Regions from separate parts of the Homo sapiens genome. Here region 2 is linked to region 1. The links come from fine-mapping of genetic effects on gene expression. A gene starts in region 1. The other region holds a variant in brackets. All regions are shown on one strand. Distances are from middle to middle.

Region 1 (2,931 bases):
CAGGTTTATTAATGTACCTGGAAGAATTTGTGTCAAAGAATTATTAGACAGGTCCACGATATGTAGTTTGGAGGGCATGTTGGTTGGAACTGTCCAAAGTTTGTTACTACTGAGGTTGAGAACCTCGAGACTTCTTAGTGTATTTTTAATGAGGACAACCTTTTCCAGCATGTTCTTAGAAACATCCAGATATTTAAGATTCCACTGATAAGCAGTATCAGATTTGTCAAGAAGTTTAATGTTGTTGTTAGCAGCAGACATGTTCCACAGAGACCGAGGTAAGTGAGCAGGCAGGCTTTCAAGCCTGTTGTTTGAAATGTCCAGGGTCCTCAGATTGGTATATTGGGTTAACTGGTTATGCAGATCAGTAAAGTGGTTATAAGACAGGTTTAAATGTATAATATTCTCTTGCAGTCCAGATGGTAATGTAGACAAGTTTCTGCCTGAACAGTCCACATGCCTGTGCCTCTCTGTGCATATACATTGGAGAGGACAAATGCATAAAATACCAGGTGTGAGAAACAGAAGGATGAACAGGCAGAGAGACATTTTCAATATCTGATATTCCATCAAAGCCTAGAAACAAACAGATACACCCTTCTTTTAATATGCAAATACAGTTTAGGCATCTGCATGGGTCAGTTAGCATTAGGCAAAATTTTCAATAAACCTCGTTGTTGTCGAGTCCTTTTATAATTGTTCCAGTGATTAAACTAACAAAGCTCCCCTTCATTTATAGTCCAAATGCTTAATCCTTCAATTGGGCTATGTGGTAGAGAGAGACTCTCTCCCTACTCTCTCCTGCATTTTCTCCTTTATTTTCTCTCTCCCTCCCCCCTTTTCTAACCATATTCTTTCTTATTTATCTTTCTAGAGCCTTAATATGATAAAATAGCATTCTTTGCAAATAAATAGTTGCAGTTGTAGGCTATTACTATTTTTGATGATATGCTTTCTTACTCAGATGAGAAAAAATGGCTGTCGTGTCTTTTTTTTTTAATCTCTGCAGTAATGTAATTCAATGTGTGTATATAGGGTAGATTTTATTTAGATATTAAAGCAGTTCTTCGAAATTTTATCTGTATGTTTTTAGGATAAATATATCTTTGTAAAAAGCACTTGAAAAATCCAGACCAACACAGTACCTATAAACCTCACATTTTATAAAGTGATTTTTTTCTGTATATTTCAGTGCCCATTTTAAAGGAAAACAATATGTATATTTACAGAGTGACTGAATGTATAAAAAATATCCCTCAACTGACACTGCAGCAAATTTCTGGTGCATGCACTTGCTATTGAATATATATTTAATCCTAACGTTGACTTTTTCTTAAAAGAAAAAGGAAAAAGATTCCAAAGTCAGCCTTTTACTGATTTAAATAACATCTTACCGTGGTGTCGTCTTCAACATCAGCATCTCATTTTCTCTGGGAAACTTAAAGGTCGTCTTGTTCTGTAGAGTCGGAACTGTTTCTGGCTGTGGGCTGTGCTTGCCTGCTCAGCTGCATTGTGTTGCTGTGAGCTGAAGCTCTGCAACCACCTGATCAGTACCACATAGGAGGACTGCAGAGCTGTCGCTGGTGCTGACTCAAATTTATGGCAAGAGGTGCACACGCAACAAAATGGACAATTTTTTAAAAAATTTGTGGCATCAAGCGTACCTATATATCTGATTTGCTATAGGATGGGATACCTTATGCATGAGAGTTGGCCCTTACTCCTTTCTATGTATTTGTCTGAGATTGGGTTCCATATTTTAACATTTGCCTCATTAAGAATCTGTGAATTTTTAAAATACCTCTACTCTTTATCCTTTTTACATGTTGAAAATAAATTTGACCTTCCTCATGGATAGTTTTCTATGATATTAGTCCCACTATTTTTTAACTCCTGCCTTTTTATATTCCTTTCTAAAATTGTATAATTTTCATGTCACTTTTTTAATATTATAAAAAATCTGTTTTATGACTTTTATGTCTTCCCCCAACATGGTGATTATTATGTTTAATCAGCTTTTCAAATTTATCAACCACTTAAGTGTTCCGTCTTCCCTTTTAGGATGTATAGAAGTACTGAAATACGATTATTTTTTCTTTATCTTTCTGATACAATGATCATTTGACCAAGGCTACACACAAGCCAGGATACATTTGGAAATTAGCATCTTATACTTCAGATTATCAGTTCCTATGTAAAATAAACATGTTTTATTTTATATATTTGGAGTTAAAGTTTTTTTTCTTTATGCAACCTTGGGTGGTAAGTGGATATGAGTATTGTTTTTTCCAAAGACATTTTTGGTGCTGTATGAATGACCATTTATTTGATTTTATGTTTTAAGAATAGCAGTATCAATTTAGGTGATTTCAGAGTGTTGCACATTTCATCTTTCTGGGAAAGTAGTTTATAGTTTTAAAATTACATGAAATGATATAAAAGGAAAATTTTTCATCATGAGTTTTATAAAGTGAGATCAGATTTATGATAAATTTTGCTCCACTCTTCAGTGGACTGCTTGTGTAAATCTGTTAAAACACAAATCTGATTTCCAGAATGGCAAGTTTAAAGAAAGCAAATAAAGTTACGGTATTTTCGTTACCAAGTGGCACCATTTAAAAACGAGTAATATTTAGCATGTTATGTGTAAGGAAAGTCTCTTTATGCCTTGTTACTAAATCGTTTGTTTTTCTCTAAATTATATTAGCATTATTTAGATTATACCACAAATAGAATTTGTTGTATTAAAATTTGAAGTTTATTTTCTTACAAGAGAAACTATACTCTAGGAGCCACCTTTTGTATAAAACTAATGTTCCTCGAAAAGTATCTGCATTTTAAGAGTCCGCAACATAGAAGTTTATTGTTGATTGGGTGCTTTATTGCCACTTTACTTTGAGGGTTCAGTTGAACTCTCAATTGGATTCTTAC
Region 2 (2,931 bases), 88 kb before region 1:
AAGTTGTTTAAAAGTTATTTATTGACCTGTTTATTCCAGAGATCTGGGAAATCAGAAGTTTATTTGACTTTTTTGCTTTAAGTTTACTACCTTTTCTGGTAGAAAGTTAATGACCTCCAATAATAGGACTTGTTGGGGGGTTAATATTCACTTCCTATTTAACTTCAATATCCACTTTACCAGCTGCCCATAATTTTCTGTGAATAAGGACTAAAAATGAAACTAAATGATTATTTTGAACAGAGGTAAAATTTGATTGGTAGTCTAAATATGTTCTCTACACTTAGAAGTTATTTTACTTCTTAGCCCTAGTTATAAGCTGATTCTCAGAGCTACATATTATTTTACCGAAAAGCCATAACTAGAGAGGATTTCCTCTTTTGGCTCAAGGACACCTGTAATAAGAATTTAGTTTTTATTTCTAATTATTTTCTGAAAATATCAATATACATTTAATTTTCAAAATCATTCCTAAGCTGTTTATGTTTTTGAAATGTTATATGTATGTATATTTGTACATAATGACTAAAGGACAGCTTTTGGGCTGATATTACCAGGAGAGAAAATAAATAGCAAATGTAATATGAAACAATTTTTAGAATAAGAAAATTTTAGGTTTTGAATGGCTGTTAGGGTAAAATCTCACCCTTCATAAACTTGGTGAGTTAACAGTCAGATAACCAGTATGGAAGTATTGACCTTCTACTCTTTGCCAGGCAAAGGTGCTAATGCCAGGGAAGCATGGTGAACTAAACATACACAGCACTTCCCCTCACCGAGATTCCAAGCAAAAGGTTTATAGCTTTTGCTTGAAAATGTCTAATGAAGAACTCAACACCGGACACGGTGGCTAACGTCTGTAATCCCAGCACTTTGGGAGGCCAAGGTGTGCGGATCACCTGAGGTCAGGAGGTCGAGACCAGCCTGGCCAACATGGTGATACCCTATATCTACTAAAAATACAAAAATTAGCCAGGCGTGGTGGTGCATCCCTGTAATTCCAGCTACTCAGGAGGCTGAGGCAGAAGAATCGCTTGAACCTGGGAGGCAGAGGTTGCAGTGAACTGAGATGGCGCCATTGCACCCCAGTGTGGACAACAAGAGCGAGAATCGGTCTCAAAAAAAAAATCAAACAAAAAAACTCACTACAGGTGGCATGGAGTCTGGCAACACAGGCAAATATATATAATAAATGGTTTACAGATAATACCTAACATCAGAGTTTCCTACTGTTGGCACTATTAACATTTTGGACTGGATAACTCTGTTATAGGGGGCTGTACTGCGCATTGTGGGATATTCAGCAGCATCTCTGGCCTCTACCCACTAGATGCCAATATT[C/G]CCTTTACCCCCCAGCCCTCCAAGTCATGAAAACCAAACATGTCTCCAAACATTTCCAGATGCCCCTTGGGGGACAAAATCACCCCCAGTTGAGAACTACTGTATTACAGAGTATGTTCAGTGGGTTGTCCCTCATTTGTATTGCCTCAAATGATTTGGGACTGATAAACCTGAGCCATTAGCTTGCTTCAGAAGTAGCAATCTAGGAGTTCTGTTGCAAAACAGTAAAAGTAAAATAATATCTGCTTCAAGGCTTTACTAACACTTTGTATTTTGGAGAGACAAGTTACTTGTTGGAAGGAGCTAATTATTTGAAAATTTTCTCTTCGACCAAGATAGAATCATGTCTCTGTCACTTACAGCCATCACTGATCCTCTTTCTGTTGGAGCTCTATAGAATACTTCTGATTCTTCCACAAGGTGGCCCTGCAGATATTTGAATAAGGTTATTCTGTACTCCTAGAATTCGTTTTATTTTTATATCGTTTTGGCATTGGAAGGGATTTTATTCTTTTAGCTCTCTCTCTTTTTTTTTCTTCTTGAGACAGAGTCCCACTCCGAGTCCCACTCTGTCACCCAGGCTGGAGTGAGTGCAGTGATGCAATCTTGGCTCACTCCAACCTCTACCTTCCAGGTTCAAGTGATCTCCTGCTTTAGCCTCCCGACTAGCTGGGGTTACAGGTGCCCACCATCATGCCAGCTAATTTTGTGTTTTTAGTAGACCATTTAGCACCATTTTGGGCAGGCTACTCTTGAACTGTGACCTCAGGTGATCCACCTGCCTCAGTCTCCCAAAATGCAGGGCTTATAGGCATGAGCCACTGTGCCTGGCCTCTTTTAGCTCTCTTTAAAACTGTATGTGTGTTTGTTGGGTCTGTTTTTATAGCTAAAGAAACTGAAGCTTAAATAAAGTTATATTAATAACAAATGCATGGTTAATGAACAGTCAACCAGAGTTAGTTCTGAGGTTTCTTGACATTCAGTTCAGTGTCTTTATCAGGTTCTTTAGTTGTCCTTCTTCACTAGCAAGTTAGCTTGATGAAAGCAGTAGCTTTGTCTGGCTTAATCAACACTGAATCCCTAACGTTTGAACAACATCTGATACATATTGGGCATTTAGTACATGTTTGCAGAATGAATGAAGGAATGAATTTCTTACTTGATGTGGTTTCAAAATCCTCGTACAGGCCGGGCACAGTGGCTCATGCCTATAATACCAGCACTTAGGGAGGCCGGGGCGGGCAGGTCACTTGAGACCAGGAGTTTGAGACCAACTGGGCCAACATGGTGAAACCTTGTCTCTACTAAAAATGCAAAAAAATTAGGCAGGCGTGGTGGCAGGCACTTGTAGTTATAGCTACTCAGGAGGCTGAGGCAGGAGAATTGCTTGAACCCGGGAGGCGGAGGTTGCAGTGAGCCAAGATTGTGTCACTGCACTGTCAGCCTGGGCAACGGAGCGAGACTCTGTCTCAAAGAAACAAAAACAAAAAACAAAAAACCCTCCTGTTTCTGATTTGCTTCTCTTCTGGAAAGACCAACCTGACAAAAATTTTTAAAATTAAAATGCCATATTAAGATCTGATGTTAGTG

Direction of the effects. Alleles are on the strand shown, and positions count from the first base shown. SD is a standard deviation of normalised expression in the study named.
With allele G in place of C in region 2, the expression in spleen of the gene that starts at base 1,478 in region 1 is lower (moderate effect, 0.58 SD a copy in GTEx).

Evidence for each region.
Region 2: its variant is fine-mapped to the expression of OMG in spleen (GTEx, PIP 0.97).

The regions. Positions count from the first base shown.
Region 1 is chr17:31,295,762-31,298,692 of GRCh38, forward strand. OMG (oligodendrocyte myelin glycoprotein) reads right to left here and starts at 1,478. Exons shown (of 2, transcript NM_002544.5): 1 at 1,395-1,478; 2 at 1-576. The coding sequence starts at 570. All of the region lies in intron 36 of NF1 (neurofibromin 1), which reads left to right.
Region 2 is chr17:31,207,774-31,210,704 of GRCh38, forward strand. The region is part of intron 12 of NF1 (neurofibromin 1); the gene reads left to right. Among named protein-coding and RNA genes, the nearest start is that of OMG, 88 kb to the right of the region's middle. The variant C/G (reference allele first, on the strand shown) is at 1,342.